Homo sapiens: one gene and its partners. The protein of the gene in region 1 interacts with the protein of each later gene in a biochemical or structural test. Each region holds a gene or a part of one and is shown on either strand. Other genes may lie near its edges. The genes, in order: THBS1, COL5A1 and CALCR.

What was found.
Region 2: the proteins of THBS1 (region 1) and COL5A1 form a complex in vitro, tested with the Homo sapiens proteins (one study listed by BioGRID).
Region 3: the proteins of THBS1 (region 1) and CALCR form a complex in vitro, tested with the Homo sapiens proteins (one study listed by BioGRID).

Annotation. Positions count from the first base shown.
Region 1 is NC_000015.10:39,583,958-39,587,611, reverse strand, and holds part of THBS1 (thrombospondin-1 precursor), read right to left. Parts: intron 3,625-3,654; coding exon 3,425-3,624; intron 3,313-3,424; coding exon 3,190-3,312; intron 2,143-3,189; coding exon 2,049-2,142; intron 1,487-2,048; exon of another isoform or gene 359-1,486; intron 266-358; coding exon 92-265; intron 1-91. UniProt on the Homo sapiens protein: Adhesive glycoprotein that mediates cell-to-cell and cell-to-matrix interactions.
Region 2 is NC_000009.12:134,812,803-134,816,456, reverse strand, and holds part of COL5A1 (collagen alpha-1(V) chain isoform 1 preproprotein), read right to left. Parts: intron 2,475-3,654; coding exon 2,421-2,474; intron 1,661-2,420; coding exon 1,553-1,660; intron 882-1,552; coding exon 828-881; intron 523-827; coding exon 469-522; intron 1-468. UniProt on the Homo sapiens protein: Type V collagen is a member of group I collagen (fibrillar forming collagen). It is a minor connective tissue component of nearly ubiquitous distribution. Type V collagen binds to DNA, heparan sulfate, thrombospondin, heparin, and insulin.
Region 3 is NC_000007.14:93,431,681-93,435,334, reverse strand, and holds part of CALCR (calcitonin receptor isoform 2 precursor), read left to right. Parts: intron 1-1,040; coding exon 1,041-1,082; intron 1,083-3,654. UniProt on the Homo sapiens protein: G protein-coupled receptor activated by ligand peptides amylin (IAPP), calcitonin (CT/CALCA) and calcitonin gene-related peptide type 1 (CGRP1/CALCA).

The DNA of each region.
Region 1 (3,654 bases):
TGTTCTTAATATACATGCTGTGGAGCTGCCCTTGGTGACGACAACAAGGACAGGTCAGTTCTCCACGTCCCTGAGAGGCTAAGATGCTTACATCTCTTGTCACACTCCTGAATGTGGCAGGTCCGTGTCTGGACCGAGGAGCCCTCACATCGGTTGTTGAGGCTATCGCAGGAGCGGCCGCGCTGCTGAATTCCATTGCCACAGCTCGTAGAACAGGAGGTCCACTCGGACCATGGAGACCAGCCATCGTCCGCAGAGTCGCTGGCTGCAGGGGAAACAGAGGTTCATCAGGTACGTGATGATTAGGACAAGCTGTTCTTTAGAGGGCTCTGTTCAGGGCCCTCCACTTGCCAGAGGGTGAAAAGCAATATATTTATTTCTTTTTGGCTTTACTGAGGTATAATTGACAAATATTATATACATTTAAGGTGTATAATGTGATGTTTTGATATACACATATATTGTGATTACCACCGTCAAGCTAATTAACACATCTCCATCATCTTACAGTTACTTTTTTTGGTGATGACTTAAGATCTACTCTCTTAGCAAATTTTAAGCATACAATCCAGTATTATTAACTATGGTCACCATGGTGTACATGAGCTCTCTAGAACATAATATGAGCCGGCACAAAGTTGCAGTTATACAGGATGAAAAGCAACATATTTCTTAGGCCAACGGCCCAGGGGTTTATCCCAGGTCATGATGTGTACAGCAGTGGGGTAATCGGATGCTTTGCCTGGCTCAGTACAGCTGAGCCTTCCCACAGTGTATGCTCTCCTATTCATTGATTTTCTTTCTCCTCTCAGCATTGCAAATGAGTTTTCCTTTACTGACTTAACATATCTGGGTAGGCATTTCCAGTCTCAGACTTCCAAGAATGCGCGAGTATGAGGAAGCTTATAGGAGTCATTTCTGTCAGGGGAGCCATACACCATGTGTTTGACAGATGAGTGTGAAGGCAGCCGAGCTGTTGTTGGTTCTGGCTCCAACTCGGCCGTGAGTTAGTCAGTTTGTTGTTCCTCTCACCCCAGCGTTTGGGGCCTTCTCTGCACATATTGTCATAAGAGGACAGCATGTTTGTTTACCATCTGCCCAGGCACCACGGCTACAATCACATCTAGCTGTATCAGACAGAAGACAAAGAACTTACTTTCTGTGGTCATTAGTTGTAAGTTTTCTTAGCAATCCCTGATTCAAGTTCAAAACTTTGCTACCTCCAGCTAGCTTTGTTCCTTTTAACGCACATGTTAAGTGAATGCGGAACAGAAAATAAATGTAAAAACGACCATTACAGTGCCAATATCGCTAATATGATCCCTGGATGGAATTGGTTATTCTGAGCTGTGACAAGGGTGTGTTTGTGTGTGTGTGCATGTGTGTTTCTGTGTGTGTGAAGGGCAAGTGCTGTTTTCCTGTTTTCTTCCTTATCTTAGTTGTAATGAATCACTTTTATAACTTGTACCTGCTACACTAAGTATTGTCTCAGCAAAGTCATTCATTTTACTGGTAACAAAAGCCAGGGATAACGTGCCATGGAACGATATCGTGCCTTATTTCTTTTGGTGCTCTAGAGCTCAGATTGCTGCTATTCTCTTAGGCCCTCTTATCCCTACAGATGAAAGGGGCAAAACTTCCAGGCCCGATCAGGCCAATGCTTACACAGTAAGCCTGTCAATATCTCTGGTGAGCAGATTTTTCTTAACTCTGTGCCACTAAGGTCAAATTCTAAAAGCAGTCAACTTAGAGCTGTTGCTGCCACGTCTTCATCTCTTTTCCTCAAAGCAAAAAATCAGAATTAATGAGCTATACCAAGATCTTCACTGCCATTACTGCAATCCAGATGGGTAATTACGATGTACTCATAATGGAGTTTTGGCTCTGTACAGCAGATAAGCTGTCAGTTAACCAGCTGCTGCAGCAAGAAACTGAATGGAAGCATGATGGAGATGGGGGTGGGGTTCCAGTGTTGTGCTCGGCTGTCTAGGATGTATGTAGAACTGACCTAGTCACTGAAGAATAGCTATGCCATTTGAGAAACTTACGCCAACAGCGAGGACAGCATTCTCCATCAGGAACTGTGGCATTGGAGCAGGGCATGATGGGGCAGGACACCTTTTTGCAGATGGTAACTGAGTTCTGCAGGGCAAGAGAGTGAGAGGGGAACAGGCTGCTGAGCATGTTGCATACAGAAGTCTACATCCTGTAACATTTCCTTTACAAGCCAAAACATGGTCAGGGCTGTCAATGCTCTAGTGGAATGATTTTCATAGATCTGTCTCTGTCATATTTGCAGCCACCACTATCGTAGAGACAGTTCTAGTGCTAGTTTACGTGTCACTCCATTCCTTGGAAAGTTCTTTTTAATTGCTACTTAGTCAAGGGTGGAAGTTACAGTACAAAGAATTTATAGCAGAGGAACCAACAAACATCATGGGTCAAATCTATGTCTGAAATCAAACTCAGAAAATTCAGCCAGGACTTTTACATTTTTATATTATGTGTTTGGGGGGAGGAAGGAAGATCTATAAGCACTTTTTCCTCATCTATAGATCTGTGATCTGTCTTTATATTGGAAAAGAAAGGGAATTTAATGAAGTTGGTTCCCACAGCCAGTCATCTGTGATTTGTATTTAAGCAAATTCAAATACTTTGCTATTAATAGATAAGCCAGGTGAACCTCCAAACTCACTGGCCACTGGCATGCGGGGATGCTAGAGTGAATCACACACCTGGCAGTGCCATCTGAGCAAAGCAGACAGTAACATCCTAACAGTGTCAGACTAAGTGATTTGAAAAACAATTGCTACTGTACTAAAAGAACCTATGCCAAAGCTGAATATAAATCAGGGTTGGGAAAAAAAAATGAATGTTCCAACCAGGTTTTATTTACCTGACATTCAACACTTAGTCTTTGAACTAAGGTAGGTAAATTATTCAGATGTCTTAGTAGATTCATTCTCTTAGATACTTAGCCTGGGGTATAATTAATACTTTGATAAACCATCTGAGAGTTTAAAGAAGAACTTATAGATGCCATAATTGCATCTTAAAGAAAAAAAAAACACTTTGTTATCAGGCCATGGAACATAAAAAGAATCTCTGTGGCGATTAGGGTATTTCCCCAAAGATGTAGGTTCAAACAAAAGCCGTCGATTCTTATTCTGGCTGGTGAAGGTCCCTTACCTGACAGTGACACTCAGTGCAGCTATCAACAGTCCATTCCTCGTTATTTCTGTACTGAACTCCGTTGTGATAGCATAGGGGAGGCCGCCTCAGCTCATTGGCCAACTCTTTGTTCTCTTCAGTCTAAATGGGAGAGAATATCATTAGTGTCCCCCCGCATTTTCAGTCATTTGGGACCATCTGCGATAAACCTTCCAGGGTTCATGCTAACGGGCTGGGTGCAGAGGCCACTGACCACTTTGCGGATGCTGTCCTGCAGCGTGGTCACAATGGTGCGCAGGCCCCTGAGTTCCAGGACCATGCTGGACAGCTCATCACAGGAGATGCCGCAGATGGCTTGCAAGTCCTTTGTCTTGTGGCCAATGTAGTTAGTGCGGATGGCAGGGCTGGAACCATTCACCACGTTGTTGTCAAGGGTGAGGAGGACACTGGTAGCTGGCAAGAAACAAAATGAAAACTTCAAAT
Region 2 (3,654 bases), on another chromosome or scaffold:
GCCCATGGGGGTCGATCCGTCCCAGAAAGACGTTCTGGGCTTGAAGCGGTGTTTAAAACACTCAACGCCAAGCGTCAGATGCAACGTCCAGTGTGATCTCGGTCAAGGTAAGGCAGGAAGGGCCTGGTGAGGAGAGGCACTGGCCCTGCTAGGCAGAGCTGTGGGTAAGATCTGACGTTCCCGGGCGAGCCCATGGTGGGTCGTGGAAGCCCTGGGGCTGCCTGCAAACCTGCTGCTGAGACAGCACGTGCATCTCAGAGGGAGTTCATGAGCTCTGTCACTGTCCAGAATCAATATCATAAGGGAATCAACATCATAAGGGAATCAATATCATAAGGGAATCGATATCATAAAGGAATCAATATCAACTAGGTTGGAGTTTTTCCCAGAAATGAGTCAAGCAAGCTGCAAGGTCCCAAGAATACACTGACACCTCCACCAGGAAGCCAGCCCAGATTGTGGACTCACCGTCTGCCCGGGTTCACCATCATCTCCTTTGTCACCAGGGGGACCATCTTGACCCTATGGAGGCAAAAGCGAGCTCCTTGCTGAACCCCGGATGGCACCCTGAGTTCATGCACCAGTTCCCAATGCATCTCCAGCCCCTTCCCAAAACCCAAATCCATTCTGGTGCCAGCACAGAGCATGGTCAGTGGGGTCAAAGGCGTTTTCTTGCTCTGATCACCGGAACACGAGTGCCTTTTGGGACATTGCCTGCCCCAGTGGGAGTTCATCACAAAGAACCACCAGAAAGAGGGGAAATGGGGCTGGCAGAGGCAGGCCAGCACTGTGGGGGATCCGGTGGCTTTGCCCTCTTGAGCACCTACCGCGGGGCCAGGCTCTCCGGGGGGGCCAGGATCTCCAGGAAAACCCACTGGGCCCTGAAAGGAAGAAAGAAGGAAGCAGCCAAGGCCATCAGCAACCTGACTGAGACCACACACGGCCAATCATGTCACCACCTCAAGATGGCCACCTGCCACCGTCCAGCTCCTAAGACTTTCCAGCAGTTCCGACAACCCAGTGCACTTTATGGCCCAGAGACCCTTCCACGTGCAGCATGTCCCAGAGCCAGCAAGCCTGGCCAGTGGGCATGGCAGGGGTCAGCTGGTCTCTTGCTTTCCAGAGCCAAGCAAGGGGCAGGCGTTCCGCCCACAGGTCTATTCCTGGGAGCTCCAGGCTGCAACTAGAACCTGGACCTTCAGACTTCCGGAATGTGCCTCTCCGAAGCCCCTCCTGATGCAAAATCAGGGCCGGCCAAGGGCGGGGGCAACTTCCCAAAGCCTGGCTGTCACTCGTGCATCTCAGCCGGCCGCCTGGCCCACAGAGAAGAATCACTCAGGGCTTTCTCCTCCAGTCCACGCCCTGTCTCATCTCCACTATTTTGGTTCAGTAGCTGGTATGAAAACCTCTAGTGTCTAGAAAATTTACCCAACACATGGAATGGTCTTGAAGCTGTTCTCAGAGCAGAGTGCACCGCCAGTGAGTCAGAATGATCCCAGTGCAGAGCCCCGCCCCTGCTGCAGGGCCCCTGAGGTGTGTCTGGAATACTCACAGGGCTGCCTTTGGGACCATCATCTCCGGGAGGGCCTTTGGGTCCAGGGGGTCCGGCAGCACCTGAAGGGCCTGACTCGCCCTTCTCTCCCCTTTCTCCTTTGGGTCCCTGGAGGAAAGAGGCCAGTGTCAAGTCCTCAGAGCCAACCACGTCGCCGCCCAGAGCAAGGTGGGCCTCCCCGGTTTTCTCACCCCATTCAGACCAGCCTTTCCAAGTATCTGCTGAGCCCTGCAGGGGGCTGGCTGCCAGGTCGCTCCCCAAGCCCTGGGCAGAATCAGCTCCTGTGTGCACCCTGAGGGGGACCTGAGGAGCCTTCACTTTCTGGGGCCCTCAAAGCCTGAGATTCAGCTCTGGGTGGGAGGGACTGACTCCTGGACCAGACATCAGTCAGTGAAGACCACAAGGGGTGCCCACAGACTCCACGGATCTCATGGGGAGGGAGCAGCTAGAACCAGAAGACCCGAGTCCACCCAGCTGGTCCTGGGCCTGAAAGCCACCTTTGGGCTGGCCTCATAGTGAACATTCATCTGGCCTGAGAAGGCCTGGATATTCCTAGTCTGGCCCTCAAGGTCCGGGGGGACGAGGTGACAGCAGCTGCCCCGCGAAGGGGCCAGGAGCAAACACTACAGAGGGTAGAGTTACTGCAGGCCACTGGGCACAGGTAGCTATTGCTAGGTCTGCGTGTACATGCTGACTCCCACATCACACACCTTGTTCACGGTCATTCCATGAAATGGGCACAAGAGGGGTTACAACTCCCATTTCGTGGATGGAAAAGCTAAGGCAGAGCCAGAGCCTCCAACCCAGCACCCCGTCCACACACCCGCTCGGCCATATCCCACCCCTCCCGCAGCGCCCGCTCACTCACCGGGGGGCCGCCTTCTCCCGGAAGGCCAGGCTCACCTGCTTCGCCAGGCTCGCCCTAGGGAGACAGTGCATGTGGTTATGGCAGCGGTGAGCACCGCGATGAACGCAGTGCTACGGTTTCAAGCATTTGCCAAATCCTGCCTGCTGTCTGCCTGCCCCTGGGCACCCAGGACCCAGGGGTTTCTGGGGAGTGCTGTCCCCACACACTCCCAGAATTGGAGGTGCGTGAGGAATGTGGCAGGCACGTGATGGATACAGGGCAGAGTGTCCAGACTGCAAGCAACACTGTCTGTGAAGGCTTTCCCGGAGCGCTGCTCCAAGGGTTGTGGAGGGCAACTATGAGAAGCTGGTAAGTGGCTAGGATGGCACTCCAGGTGGGGGATGGCCAGGGCCGAGGCAGGAGGACAGGCACGCAGTCCTCAGGGACACAGGCCAGAGGGACGCAGGGAAGAGGGCATGCACAGTGGCAGCAGGTGAACAGAAACATGCGCCCTACAGCGGGGACACCAAGGAAAACACCGCCTCTCTGAGCAGAAGCCGCACACCATCACCCTGTGGTCTCAGCAGGGCATATTCCTCTTTAATTTCTGTATCATAAAAAATGAGCAGCGGTGGAAGGCGTCTTCCAATTTAATGGCCTGATTGATGTCAGAAAGAAAGCTCTGGAAACGGTGCACAGGGGGCTCAAGTGCATGGATGTACACTCTGTCTTCCCTCTTGTCCAGGGGAACTGGGAGAGGTGCTTTTGCAGTCAGGCAAATGCTGTCCCACCCAGCATGCAGGCACACACACATGCACCGATGTGCACACAGGAGCTCACACACACAGGCACACACACACACACGACTGGGTCCATGACGCTCATGGAGTCTGGGCTCCAAAACCAATCAGATCAAATGGAGAGGACCCATTTGAGAAAATAATTCGGCTGAAATGGAAACTGCAAGCTTAGAAACACCAGTTATTTAAGGAATAGATGATCTCCACCAGAGCTGAGTCTTGGAGGAGGCAGGGGCTTTGCTGGTGGGGCATCGTCTGGAAATTCTGCAAAAGGCTGTCACAAATGGACAGTCAGAGTTCCCAGTTCCATTTCACAAGCATCTGCCTACATTTCAAAATGCCCTTCATAGGAATAAACCAGCCATGCCCACAGAAATGAGTACTTCTCATCTCTGTGTACACACAGAGAGGTACACACACGTGTATGCACCCCCACAAGCGTGTGCATGCGCACA
Region 3 (3,654 bases), on another chromosome or scaffold:
CCTTTATAAATAAGTGCTGGCTCTGGGGTAATGAGGAATTTGCACAAGGCTGTCCATGCCTCCTGCTCTATCACTCTCCATTTGTCAGGTGAATGTTAGGAATCCATTCATGACGGTTCAGTGCTATAAAGGGAAGTTGTATCCAGGCCTCCCCTCATGTAAGAGAGAATGCAGTGGGCTCTCAGGGGCTGTCCTGGGCTGTCCAGTGTCTGCCGCACTGGATAGGAGAATGGCTGCCCTAGTTCCATTCACCTTTACCCAGATCTAAAGCCCCATTGAAAGCATAATGCTGTATTTGGATAGCAAGATAGGATGTGGGAGTCCTTGGCAGGAGTAATTCTATCACAGGCTCTTAGGCCAGAGTTTTGCTGTCTCTATTACAAATTTCAAAATAGTTTTATTTTCTATATTAGGCTTAATGTGAGGAGGAGGTCAAAATTAATAGGGCCAGAAAGAAAGTTTAGGGATCGTTTGAATAGTTCGAACTGTTCTTTTAGCCATAATCAAAACTTGGGCACAAGAAATCTTCAAGCAGTGACCAGGACTCAGGCAGTTTCTTAGTCCATGTCCTTATCTGAGCGATGAACTTGGCGGTGGGTACAGTATTGCACTAGTTCACCATGACAACATAGGACACAGACCCACAGCCTCCCACTATGACACTTGTCTTGTAAAAGATCCCTCTACTGAATTCTGCAAGGTCTCCATTTTTAAATTTTCTAAGTGTAGTTTTTTTTTTTCAAATTCACCATAATCAGCATATGCTGCTATAAATCTCCATGTTAAAGGGAGCAAAATATTATTTAGATTAGCAAAATATTAATCCGTCCTTCTAGCCAAACGATGGAATCCTAACAAGAAAAATATATTTCTAAGGGAATATTCTTATAGTGCAGCACTGACTATGAATGGTAGATAATTCTTTTTCTTGCTTTTTTTTTTTTTCATCAGGCCTTCTCTGGGCAGTCTATTATATTGTTTACTAAACAACATAATGCACACAAAAATAACTTCAACTGTATTTTTCCTTCCCTTTTTAGGGCTTCTTTGTTGCGACCATCTACTGCTTCTGCAACAATGAGGTAAGCATGCATTTCATATAATACTATCACTTGTTTGTGTAAAGGCAGCATTTTTTCCAAAGGGCCTCTGTACAAATTTCATTTCATCTCACTTCTACAGTTGACCTCATAGGGTTTTGTGATTAGCAACATGATGTTTTTTCCACTACTCCAAGCTGAATCTTATCCATGGATGTGTAGTACAATGGCAAATATGATTCAGACAGGCAGTTAATTTCCTTGGGTTGCATCTTGAACAGATCAGCACCCTCAGGAGCAATAGTGAAAGCTATTCTGGATGCCATCACAAAGAGAAGTCATATTCCTATTCCCTTCGGAAGACCCGAGCCCTCACTAGGGCAGAGACAATCTCCATTCGGTTTGTACTAGTTCCTCACCTTCTTTTCCAGTTGCTTGGTGCTAACGCCCTACTACTTACTCAGCGTTTTGAAAATCACCCTGAAGTGAAGATTCAAAAAGGATTCTCAAATAATCTACAATGTGAATATTTAGATCAGTAAAATCTAGAGAGCCATATGGCTGATCCATTCTGTTCTCAGGGTGTTTTTAGCCAGAGTTACCCTTTCTTCCAACCAAATCTTGCCTGGGAGCCAAATCTATAAAACATAAAAATGGAGCTTCTATAGCTCCAGACATCCTTCCAAAGAACTTCCAGGGTTTTAGGGAACATGATTCAAAATCTTCCTCATTTTTCAGGGAAGAAATCTGAACTCCAGAAAGATCATGTGATTTACCCAATGTCACAAATGCACTTATGGTTATAACCCAGACTGGAACACAGATTTCCTGTTTTTCAATTAAACTGACCAACTCCCAATTAACTTATCTATATCTATAATTCCTTCCTGGAGCTATGTTAGTATGTTTTTTCTAGGACCACACAACTTTTAATGCCAAAGCATTTTTGAACATTTTAAATCAATTCCTATTAAGAATAATTCCATACAAGGCAAATCACATTTTGCCAAGACATCAATATATTACTTTCCTATTAGTAATTAGAAACATTTCTAGCCATTGTCAGTTGCTAATTTATTCTCTATCTTTTTACTAAGTTAAATAATATTTAGTGAGCACCTACAATATTTTGCTATTCTGTGACCTGTTCATACCCGTTTCCAACCGCAACATGACAAAGTTTTTGTTGTTCCTATTCTCCATTTTAGTTATTACATTTTATTCCTTTCTTTCTTCATCCATTCACCTACCAACTCATTCCTTCATTCAACAAAAATACATTGTGCATTTACTATTGCTAAGGGCTAGACTAAGGGCCTAGAATAGAAATGAAAAGACATCCTTCCATTGCCCGCTGTTAGAGTGGCAATATTTTTAGAATTTTAATATTTTTTAGAATGATAAAAACTAATAAATGAGTAGGGCGTAAGTCACCCCGTGTTTATATCAATTTCTGTGAATGTATATCCATGCCTTTTGGGTTGTTTCAGGTGGCATGCAAAATAAATTTTTTGTCTAAAATAATATCAAAATAGAGCTAATATGAGAAATCAGGCTCAGTGGGGCATACCTGGAAAAACACAAGAGGATTGCATGCATTCGTAAAAATACCACAATATTTATTGTGTCTTATCTATGATACTGTCATTGGAAGTGTCAGACATAGAAAGCAAACCCAGGGGTACCCTAGCAATTGAATGTCTCGAGTTCATTTGACTATATGTTATCTCTGATTTTGAAGTAAAGAAACCATTTCCATTTTCATTAAGATCCCGTTACTGGGGGAAGGTAAAAGTGTGACATTTCTAATAATATAGAATTGTGTACTGTGCCAGATGTAATATCACAGACCCATGGATTTTAGGCATCTGGGTCTCAGCTGGTCATTCTGCGAATGCATCACCTTACAATATTGAACACAGGCAGGGCACTCACACATGCAGGAAGTTATTTCCAGCTGCATCTAAGATAGGGCTGTGATGGGATGGTGCCTGGCTGAATACTGAGTTTTAGCAGAAATCTAGGGGGCTAACTCAACATAATAATGAGATCACATCACATTGTGTTATGTGCAATTTAATTTTGATTATGATTGGTATGTTATCAGTGAAATTATTATTTCATTTTTGAATTTTGATTCATTATTGGTATGTTATCAGTGAAATGATCATTATGAAAATGAATTATATAGAGAGTCAGTGGGTAGACTAGAAGCAGGAAAGGAACTTGAAGAATTAAAGTAATAGAAATCAGGAGAGGACCATGAGAGCATGCTTATGTATCAAGCATTTCCTACAATGACTCTTCCAAGTGAGTGGACATTGATTATCCAAACATATCAGTAAATTATTAGGTACCTAAGAGACCTGAAAAAGATGATTGCAGCTATAAAAATGCACAATTTGTTTCCAAGAAGTAGCATAGAAATGAAAGTTCTAACAACACACTAGATTTTCTCCCTTTTCTTGTGTCTTTCTATTCTCCGTACATCGTGGATAAAATAGTTTATAGAAGGAAGTAGCATGATCAGAAACATCTCCATTTAACTGTCACAAATTGGAGTGTGCAAAAGCTAAAATTTTGTTTATTTCCTGTAGCTTATCTTGCTTTCAAG